2 separate regions of the Homo sapiens genome follow, and region 1 is linked to region 2. The links come from fine-mapping of genetic effects on gene expression. A gene starts in region 2. The other region holds a variant in brackets. All regions are shown on one strand. Distances are between the middles of the regions. Region 1 has its middle 29 kb from the start of TMEM40. Region 2 holds the start of TMEM40 (transmembrane protein 40).

Evidence for each region. PIP is the estimated chance that this variant, and not a neighbour inherited with it, causes the effect.
Region 1: its variant is the best candidate, but not a certain one, in a credible set for the expression of TMEM40 in whole blood (TOPMed, PIP 0.58).

The regions. Positions count from the first base shown.
Region 1 is chr3:12,727,076-12,732,503 of GRCh38, reverse strand. No RefSeq gene overlaps it. Among named protein-coding and RNA genes, the nearest start is that of TMEM40, 29 kb to the left of the region's middle. The variant A/T (reference allele first, on the strand shown) is at 2,845.
Region 2 is chr3:12,756,814-12,761,813 of GRCh38, reverse strand. It overlaps TMEM40 (transmembrane protein 40), which reads left to right and starts at 2,555. Exons shown (of 12, transcript NM_018306.4): 1 at 2,555-2,623. RefSeq lists a silencer at 1,853-1,942 and enhancers at 1,967-2,552, 3,508-3,687.

The DNA.
Region 1 (5,428 bases), 30 kb after region 2:
ACGAAAACCACACCAGGTGCTTTAACAGAAAGAATTTAATAGAGGGACATGTTAACCAGGTGCAGGACTACTAGAAACGCAGAAAGGGACCATAGTATCACAAAGTGTAACTGAGGGAACTGCCTAGGGCTAGAGAGAAAAAGGAAAGAGGTTGTAGCTATTAGAAGTGAGAGGCCGGGGCCAGGTGTGGTGGCTCACACATGTAATCCCAGCACTTTGAGAGGCCGAGATGGGCGGATCACAAGGTCAGGAGATCAAGACCATCCTGGCTAACATGATGAAACCCCATCTCTACTAAAAATACAAAAAATTAGCCCGGCGTGGTGGCGGGTGCCTGTAGTCCCAGCTACTTGGGAAGCTGAGGCAGGAGAATGTCATGAACCCGGGAGGCAGAGCTTGCAGTGAGCTGAGATCGCACCACTGCACTCCAGCCTGGGAGACAAAGCAAGACTCTGTCTCAAAAAAAAAAAAGAAGTGAGAGGCTGGGTGCGGTGGCTCAGTCTATAATCCCAACACTTTGGGAGGCCAAGGTGGGCAGATCACCTGAGGTCAGGAGTTCGAGACCAGCCTGGCCAACATGGTGAAACCCTATCTCTACTAAAAATGCAAAAATTAGCCAGGCTTGGTGGCGGGCACCTGTAATCCCAGCTACTTGGGAGGCTGATGCAGGAGAATCACTTGAACCTGGGAGGTAGAGGCTGCAGTGAGCCGAGATCATGCCACTACACTCCAGCCTGGGCAACAGAGCAAGACTCCGTCTCAGTAAATAAATAAATAAATAAATAGCCGAGCGCAGTGGCTCATGCCTGTAATCCCAGCAGCACTTTGGGAGGCCGAGGCGGGTGGATCACGAGGTCAGGAGATGGAGACCATCCCGGCTAACACGGTGAAACCCTGTCTCTACTAAAAATACAAAAAATTAGCCGGGCGTGGTGGCGGGCACCTGTGGTCCCAGCTACTCGGGAGGCTGAGGCAGGAGAATGGCATGAACCTGGGAGGCAGAGCTTGCAGTGAGCCGAGATAGCGCCACTACACTCCAGCCTGGGCGACAGAGCAAGACTCTGTCTCAATAAATAAATAAATAAATAAATAAATAAATAAATAAATAAATAAAGTGTGAGAAGATTGAGAGAGGGTCCTCCAGAGCTGGGACCCAGACCTCTGGGGAAAGGGCACTGCTTAGCTGGGGAGGTGTCTCTGAGGGGCCTGAGGAGGCTGGTTCTGCAAGTGCAAGACCATTGGGGTCAGACCTCCAGTTTCTTAGCAGAAGCCCCAAATCTAGAGTTTGGCAACTATTTTTTTTTTTTTTTAAATTTCCACTTCTGCTATGGAAAAGAGTATAGTGATTCCTCAAAGAACTAAAAATAGAATTACCATATGATCCAGCAGTTCTACTTCTGCACATATGCCCAAAGGGGACTTGAAGGGATCTCTGTACACACATTTTCAAAGCAGCATTATTTCCAGTAGCCAGAAAGGGGAAGCACAAGCGTCCATCAATGGGCGAATGAATAAACAAAGCATGGTATATTATCAGTTTTTAAAAAAGGAAATTATTTGAGACTTCACAAAAAAATAAAAACCAAAGGGGGAAAATATGGAAATTCTAGCCAGGCATACTGGCTCATGCCAGTAATGTCAGCACTTTGGGAGGCTGAGGTAGGAGGATCACTTGACCCCAGGAGTTCAAGACCAGGCTGGGCAACACGGCAAAACCCCATCTCTGCAAAACATAAAAACATTAGCCAAGCGTGGTGGCACATGCCTGTGGTCCCAGCTACTTAGGTGACTAAGGTGGGAGGATCACTTGAGCCCAGGAAGTGGAGGCTGCAGTGAACCATGATCATGCCACTGCACTCCAGCCTGGGTGGCTGAGTAAGACTCTGTCTCTAAGAAAAAAATAAAAATAAAAAAAAAGAAATTGTGACACATGCTACCACACAGATAAACCTTGAGAACATTATGTTAAAAGGACAAATACAGTTATGATTCCATATATATGAGGTACCTAGAGTAATCAGATTCATAGAGACAGAAAGTGGAATGGTGGGTGCCAGAGGCTGCGGGACGGGGAATGAGAGTTAGTGTTTAATGGGGACAGAGTGTCAGTTTGGGAAGATGAAAACAGCCCTAGATATGGATGGTTGTGATAATTGCACAACACTGTGAAAGTATTTAACGCCACTGAACTGTACACTTAAAAATGGTTATGGTGGTTAATTTTATGTCTATTTTACCACTTTTTTTTTTTTTTGAGACAGAGTTTTGCTCTGTCGCCCAGGCTGTAGTGCAATGGCCCCATCTCGGCTCACTGCAACCTCCGCCTCGCAGGTTCAAGCGATTCTCCTGCCTCAGCTTCCTGGGTAGCTGGGACTACAGGCACGTGCCACCATGCCTGGCTAATTTTTTGCAGTTTTAGTAGAGATGGGGTTTCACCCTGTTAGCCAGGATGGTCTCGATCTCCTGACCTCGTGATCCACCCGCCTCAGCCTCCCAAAGTGCTGGGATTACAGGCGTGAGCCACCATGCCCGGCCACTTTTTTTTTTTTTTGAGATGGAGTCTCACTCTGTTGCCCAGGCTGGAGTGCAGTGGCACGATTGCAACCTCTGCCTCCCAGACTTGAGGGATTCTCCTGCCTCAGCCTCCCAAGTAGCTGGGACTACAGGCACCTGCCACCATACCTGGAATTTTTTTTTTTTTTTTTTTTTTTTTTTAGTAGAGACAGGATTTCACCATATTGACCAGGCTAATCTTGAAGTCTTGACCTCAAGTGATCCGCCCACCTTGGCCTCTCAAAGTGCTGGGATTATAGGCGTGAGCCACTGCACCCAGACCACTTTTTT[A/T]AAAAAAAAAAAATTCAAATTATCAGTGGTTAAATAAAACTGGATCAGGCCTGCGGCCCACAAGCTTACAGCTGCTTTGTGGAAGGCTTTTTATCATGTCAAGCTAAAGGCGGGAGCTAAAAGTGGTGCACGCAGGGGTCTGGTTACACCTCAGGCATCAAGTGCATTCCTGGAGCCCCAGTCCAACGTGTGGGCTAAAAATAAAGCATTGAATCTTGAGCCCAGGAAGGCAGCGTTGAAAAGTGGAGGGGTGAGGAGGAGGTTATGTGGAAGGGGATGGGCTTTGGTCTTTGGCTGTCCTGGATGCTGTGTGCTAGATTTCTGCTTTGATCACAGTGGAGGGAGGGTGAGAGTACAGATTTCAAAACCATACAAGCCAGCTTGTGCCGGGAAGATTTTTTTTAATTCAATTTCAACTTCTGCTATGGAAAACAGTATAGTGATTCCTCAAAGAACTAAAAATAGAATTACCACGTGATCCAGCAGTTCTACTTCTGCACATATGCCCAAAGGGGACTTGAAGGGATATCTGTACACCCATTTTCAAAGCAGAATTATTTCCAGTAGCCAAAAAGGGGAAGCACAAGTGTCCATCAATGGGTGAATGAATAAACAAAGCATGGTATATTATCAGCTTTTAAACTAATACTTCTGCACATACGCTTCTGCGCATATGCCCAAAAGGGACTTGAAGGGACATCTGTCCCTTCAAGAGAAGTCCGAGAGGACTGTGGCGGTTGTTTATCCTGTTCTCCCGACACAGCCCCTGGAATCTTCTGTCTACTCTAGAGGATCTGGGCCTGTACCAGAGATGGAGCGAAGGGACGCTGCTGACTAAACCTAGGAAGCTGAGGGAAGCACTTAACACTGGAGCTGGGAGATGTAGGGAAGGGCTATCCAGGCAGAGGTCACAGCATGGGCAAAGGCGTGGAGGAATAAAAGAGGATAGCACGGCCGGGCGCGGTGGCTCACGCCTGTAATCCCAGCACTTTGGGAGGCCAAGGCGGGTGGATCACTGAGGTCAGGAGTTCAAGACCAGCCTGGCCAACATGGTGAAACCCTGTCTCAACTAAAAATAGACAAAAATTAGCTGGACGTGGTGGTGGACGCCTGTAATCCCAGCTACTTCGGGAGGCTGAGGCAGGAGAATCACTTGCACCCGGGAGGCAGAGGTTGCAGTGTGCCAAGATGGCATCACTGCACTCCAGCCTGGGCAACAAGAGCGAAACTCTGTCAAAAAAAAAAAAAAAAAAAGAGGATAGCACGTCTCAGAGCAACAAGGGGTCAGCCCAGTGTAGTTGAGGCATCCAAGATCTGAGTAGGGCCGAGGACAGGTGGGCAACAGAGCACAGAGGTTAATTGCTCCCCTCCCCCAGCAGGACCTTGATACCTGAGATAAAGAGCTGAGACACTAGCCTAAGGACCATAAGGACAACAGGGAGCCTTGGAGGGAGTTCGAGCAGAAAAATGGCATAGTGAGACTGCACTTCAGAAAGATCACTGCACTCCTCTGGTAGCCCTGTGGGGGCTGTGGAGGGATGAGAATGAGCCTCACAGGCCTCCAACTCTAGGGATCCTAATTGACCAAGCACTGCTGTACTCTGTTTGCAGCAAGGACACAGTTCCCTTGAGATGCCCCCACCTGATGACTTTGCCAAGAGTGGGATGCTAAGGCAGGCCCATTCCTAGGAGACATGGGATTTCTCTGAGCTGACTTTGGCTTAAGGACTCCCCGACACCCTGCCAAACCCTCCTTAGACTGCATGGCCAACTAGGACCCTTCTACCCAACCCTCTTTCCCTCTCTTCCTCACCTGGGGCTGGACTTACATCCCAACCCTCCCAGCTCCCTCCCCGTTTCCCTGCTACACGTGTTTTCTTTAATAAAATCCTAGCACAATTTAATCTTATCCTGGTATTTGCTTCTTGGAGGACTCAGACTAATGGGGTGAGATTAGAGGCAGGGGGGACCGGTGGCCACAGGAAAAGATAGGAAGGGTAAACTTGAAGACATTCCAAAGGTCTAATCCACAGTATGACTTGAGGTGTGTGCTCACCATCAGCCCCCTGGGCTTTCCCAGTGGCTGGAGTTCCTAACACTCAGCAGAGTAATTGCCTATTTCTTTTTTTTGAGCCAACTTTCATTCTTGTCTCCCAGGCTGGAGTGCAATGGCACAATCTCGGCTTACTGCAACCTCCGCCTCCCAGGTTCAAGCGATTCTTCTGCCTCAGCCTCCTGAGTAGCTGAGATTACAGGCACATGCCACCACACCCAGCTAATTTTTTTGTATTTTTAGTAGAGACAGGATTTCACCATGTTGGCCAGGCTGGTTTCAAACTCCCGGCCTCAAGTGATCTGCCCGCCTCAGCCTCCCAAAGTGCTGGGATTACAGGCATAAGCCACCACGCCCAGCTAATTTTTGTGTATTTTTAGTAGAGATGGGGTTTCACCATGTTGGCCAGGCCAAAGATCGTGCCACTGCACTCCAGCCTGGGCGACAGAGCAAGACTCTGTCAAAAAAAAAAAAAAAAAAAAAAAATTAAAAGAATTGAAAATAGGGACTCAAAGAGGTACTTGTACACCA
Region 2 (5,000 bases):
CCATGTGTCAAGGGCTCCATAACCGCATGTGGCTGGTGGCTACTGTTCGGACAGCAGAGCTGTAAACTTCCCACGACCCTGTCCCTAGTCCCCATCTCCCCTGCATGGCTCATGCTCACCCAGATGCTGGATCCTCACAGCTTCTCCACCAGTCCACAATGCAGCAGCCAAATCCTTATCTTTTTTCTTTTCTTTTTCTTTTTTTTTTGAGATGAGATCTCACTCTGTTGCCATGGTTGGAGTGCAGTGGTGTCATCTCTGCTCACTGAAACCTCCACCTCCCAGGCTCAAGTGATCCTCCCACCTCAGCCTCCCGAGTAGCTGGGACCACTGGCATGCACCACCACACCCAGCTAATTTTTTGTATTTTCAGTAGAGATGGAGTTTCACCATGTTGGCCAGGCCGGTCTTGAACTCCTGGACTCAAGTGATTCACCTGCCTCAGCCTCCCAAAGTGCTGGGATTATAGGCGTGAGCCACGGCTCCCAGGCAAAATTCTTATCTTAAACACAGGTTTGGTCATGTCCCTCTCAGGTGGCTCCCCATCCCTCTCAGGATGCCTGGCTGCTGAGGCCCTGCCTCTCTTGCTTCCTCCTCTCCCCTCTCCATCCCCAAGGCCCCCACTCTCTGGCTGTTCAGGATTATTTGCAGATCCTCCACACAATAGTGCTCCTCACCTCTAAGCCCTCACACATGGCTCCCTCTGCATGGAATATCCTTGGAACACTTCTTGGGCTAACCTTTCAGGTCACTCATTCATTCAACAAATGTATTGAGGGCCAGATGCAGTGGCTTACGCCTATAATCCAGAGCTTTAGGGGGCCAAGGCCGGAGGATCGCTTGAGGCTAGGAGTTCAAGACCAGCCTAACATAGCAAGATCTTGTCTCTACAAAAAATATAAAAATCAGCCAGGCGTGGGGGTGCATGCCTGTAGTCCCAGCTCCTCAGCAGGCTGAGGTGAGAGGATGGCTTGAGCCCAGGAGTTTGAGTTTGCAGTGAGTGATGATCGTGCCACTGCACTCCAGCTTGGGCAACAGAGCGAGACCCTGACTCAAAAAAAAAAAAAAATTAGTGAGCACCTACTGTCAGACATGATCCTAGGTCCTGTAGCAAAGCAATACGTAATGAGAAAATAGACATAACAAGAAAATATGCAGCACAGCAGATGGTGAGCAGTGAAGCAGGCAGAGGGAAAGCTGGTGTGGGGTTACTACTTTAAGCAGGATGGTCAGATAAGGCTTCATGGAGTAGGTGACTTGTGAGGAGAGAGCTGAAGTGAGCGGGGGGCCAGGTGGCTTTCTAGGGGGAGAGCACTCCAGGCAGAGGGAACAGCCAGGGCAAAGGCCCTGAGGAGGGAGCCCACCCAGGGGAACTGGAACATGTTCCAGTGTTACTGGAGCAGAGTGAGGGAGGAAGTCATGGGAACCAAGGTCAGAGAGGGCCAGAGGTGTGGGGAAGATCTCGCAGGGGCTTGTAAGACCTTGGGTTTTACCCTGAGTGCAGTGGGAGTGTGGCAGCTGCTGAGCGGGGAGGGACATGAGCTGCTTTGGGTTTGAACAGGACCCCCTGGCTGCCTGGCTGATGAGAATAGCCAGGGGCGAGGCGGGGAGCAGGGAGCCCAGTGTTGACACTGGCTGGATCAAGGTGACAGTTGAGGAGTGGAGAGAAGGGGCTGAATTCAGGCTATACTGAAGGCAGGACCAACAGGATTTTCCAGATGGGTCAGATACAGAGTGTGAGAAAGCAAAGTGTCAAGATCTGGGGGCTGAGCTTAGGGTATGGAAGACCCCTCTTCAGGAAGTCCTCCTGGGGAGCCCACAGCTCCTGGGCCTTGCCTGTTTCCCTCCAAGGCTGGGGGCTCCCGTGGTAGGACTTGTTTCCTGTCCTGCTGCCACAGTGCTGGATAAGTGAGAGGTGAGAGGTGGAGGCAAGCTGAGCTGGGGCCCTGCCCTCGGCTGTGTGAGGTCTGACACTGCTCCTCTCACCTCTCTAGGGACCTGTGTTTTCCCACTTGCACAAGGCGAGTGGGTGCTCTCCAAAAGTACTTCTAGCTGTAACCCAGTTTCCTCCCTAGGAGTGGGCACTGCCAGTCTCCTGAGCCCCCAGGCCCTCTCTCCTGCTCCCTGCCCAACCTCAGCCTCCTGGGAGCATTGGAATATCTTCCTTCCCCTCTGGGACGCGCAGGGCAGGTTGGGACACGTGGCTGGGGCCTGAGTCAGCCTCACCAATGTGGGTGGAGGGGGTACCTGGGACACGTCCCCTCCTTCCTTCCCAGAGCTTGGTACAGCCAAGGGTGGCACAGCTGCCCCCATTTCACTGTCTCCTGGAGTCTGAAGGCATGGCTGTGGCCCTGAGGCAGGACCAGGCATGTAGCTGCCCCACCTGCCCCTCCGCAGTGTTGTAGGGAAGAGTCAAGTCAGACAGGAAGGCCTGGGGCTGATAGCACCAGCAGGAAGGAATGCCATCCCAGTGAGCGAGTGGGGCCCAGGGACAACGTCACGGTAGTCCCGCCCTCCTTGCTGTCACAGGTGCAGCCTGTCCTCTCCTTCCCCTGACCAGCCCAGCATCCACATAGTCTACACAGAGCTCCCCTTGCTGCCCAGACAAGCTGAAGGACCACAGGTAATGGGACATGGGGCTGGGTGAGCAGTGGGGTGGAGTGTCAGCTTTTAAGGAAATCGGGAGAAAGAGTGTCCTCAATAGGCTTGATATTGTGTGGTTCCTTGGTGGACCTGGGTTTGAGTCCCAGCTCTGCATCTTCCTAGCTGTGTGAGAACCTGTCTCTACTTCAGGGGAGGATGACAAATATTCACCTTCCTGGGTTGTGTTGAGGTTTCCACCCGCCTATACTTGGCCATGGTAGGTGACCAGCTCCCAATTCTGTCACCAACTTGCTGCAAGACTTTCAGAAAAACCCTTGACCTTTCTGAGCCTCAGTTTCCCTACTTGTAAAATGAAGGGTCCAGCTAGATCTCTGAAGGCACCTCACACCCTCACTGTTATGGAACCTAACAGCTTAGGAGGGGAGGGGTGTTCCCGCAAATGTCTCAGCCTCTGCACCACCATCAGTGACTACAGGCAGCTGCCCCTCTCTCTGCCCTTCCTGGAGGAAGCCACCCTGGGCTGCCAGCCAGGTTTGGGAGACTTGGAAGGAAGAAGTCAGCCGTCCTCTGCCTCCAGCTCAAAGGCACCCCCGGGGAGGATATGCCAGAGAGCTGGGCCATGGGGAGGGGGCCCTGCTGCCTGTTGGGGGCTCAGGCACAGGTGGTGTGGCCCAAGGGGAGGGGGGCTTGGCAGACCTCTCAGAGCTCCCCCCACCCACCCCCGTAGGCTGTCATCCTTGTCCTAGAGCCACCTCTGCTCAGAGCACCCTGGCTTTTAGGCCTCAAGCCAACCTAGTTTCCTTTTAAGGGGAATGAGAATGATTATGGTCTTGTGCTTATTATTTTCTTCTGTTTTGTTAAGAAACTGCCCAGAAGAGTTCAGAGCCCTAACTAAGGAGTCAGGAGTGTGTGTTAGTGGGAGTGGTGGGGAGTGAACTCAAGCTAGTGTAGCCCTAAAGCACCAGGTTACTTTTGCTGGGAAATCCTCCTTGTGAAAAGGATCAGAGAGAGAGAGATCTCAAGTGCTGGCTGCACGTCAGGGACCATGCTGGGCCTGCCCTGCTCCCTGCCTTATTTCACTTTCACAACAATCCTGTGGGTGGAGTCTTTCCTTTTTCTTTCTTTCTTTTTTTTTTTTTTAAATAACAGATTTACTGAGATGTAATTCACTACTATAAAATTCACCCTTTAAAAGTGTATAATTCAGGGCCAGGCGCCATGGCTCACCTATGTAATCCCATTACTTTGGGAGGCTGAGGCGGGTGGATCACTTTGAGGTCAGGAGTTCGAGACCAGCCTGGCCAACATGGTAAAACCCCGTCTCTACTAAAAATACAAAAATTAGCCAGGCATGGTGATGCGCACCTGTAATTCCAGCTTTTCCATTTTTGGCTGTTATGTGTAATGCTGCTATAAACATTCATTACAAGTCTTTGTTCGGATATAGGTTGTCAATTCTCTTGCGAATATACTAGGGATTGGAATTGCTGGGTCATGTAGTAAATCTTTTTTAACCTTTTGAGGAGCTGACAAACTGTTTTCCAAAGTGACCACCATTTTACAATCTGACCAGCAATGTATGAGGGCTCCAGTTTCTTCGTACCCTCACCAATACTTGTTAGTGTCTGTATGTCTTATGGTAAGCCACCCTAGTGGGTGTGAAGGGGTATCCCATGGTGGTTTTGATTTGCACTTCCCTAATGACTAATGATGTGGAGCATCTTTTTTTTTTTTTTTTTTGAGACGGAGTTTCAGTCTTGTTGCCCAGGCTGGAGTGCAATGGTGCGATCTCAGCTCACCACAACCTCTGCCTCCTGGGTTCAAGTGATTCTCCTGCCTCAGCCTCCCGAGTAGCTGGGATTACAGGCACCTGCCACCATGCCCAGCTAATTTTGTATTTTTAGAAGAGATGGGGTTTCTCCATGTTGGCCAGCCTGGTCTCGAACTCCCGACCTCAGGTGATCCGCCCGCCTCAGCCTCCCAAAGTGCTGGGATTACAGACATGAGCCACCGCACCCAGTGATGTGAAGCATCTTTCTATGTGCTATTGACTATTTCTGTGTCTTCTTTCGAGAAATGTCTATTCGAATCCTCTGTCCGTTTTTAAACTGGATTATTTGTCACTGTATGTTGAGTTGTAGGCATGCCCATTTTTCCAACTAAGGATTCTGAAGCTCTGAGAATGGATGTGACACGCTCCAGGTCTCAGAGTCAGTGAGGGGTAGAGGCGGGAACTGAAGATCTAGGTCTGTCTGATGTTCAAGAGAACTGACAAGCTCTTGTGCTGGATGCTACCTTTTTGTTTCTTATTGTCAGTTGTGTGTGTGTATGTGTGTGTGTGAGAGAGAGAGTGTGTATATGTGTGGTGTGTGTTGTGAGAGACAGAGTGTGTGTGT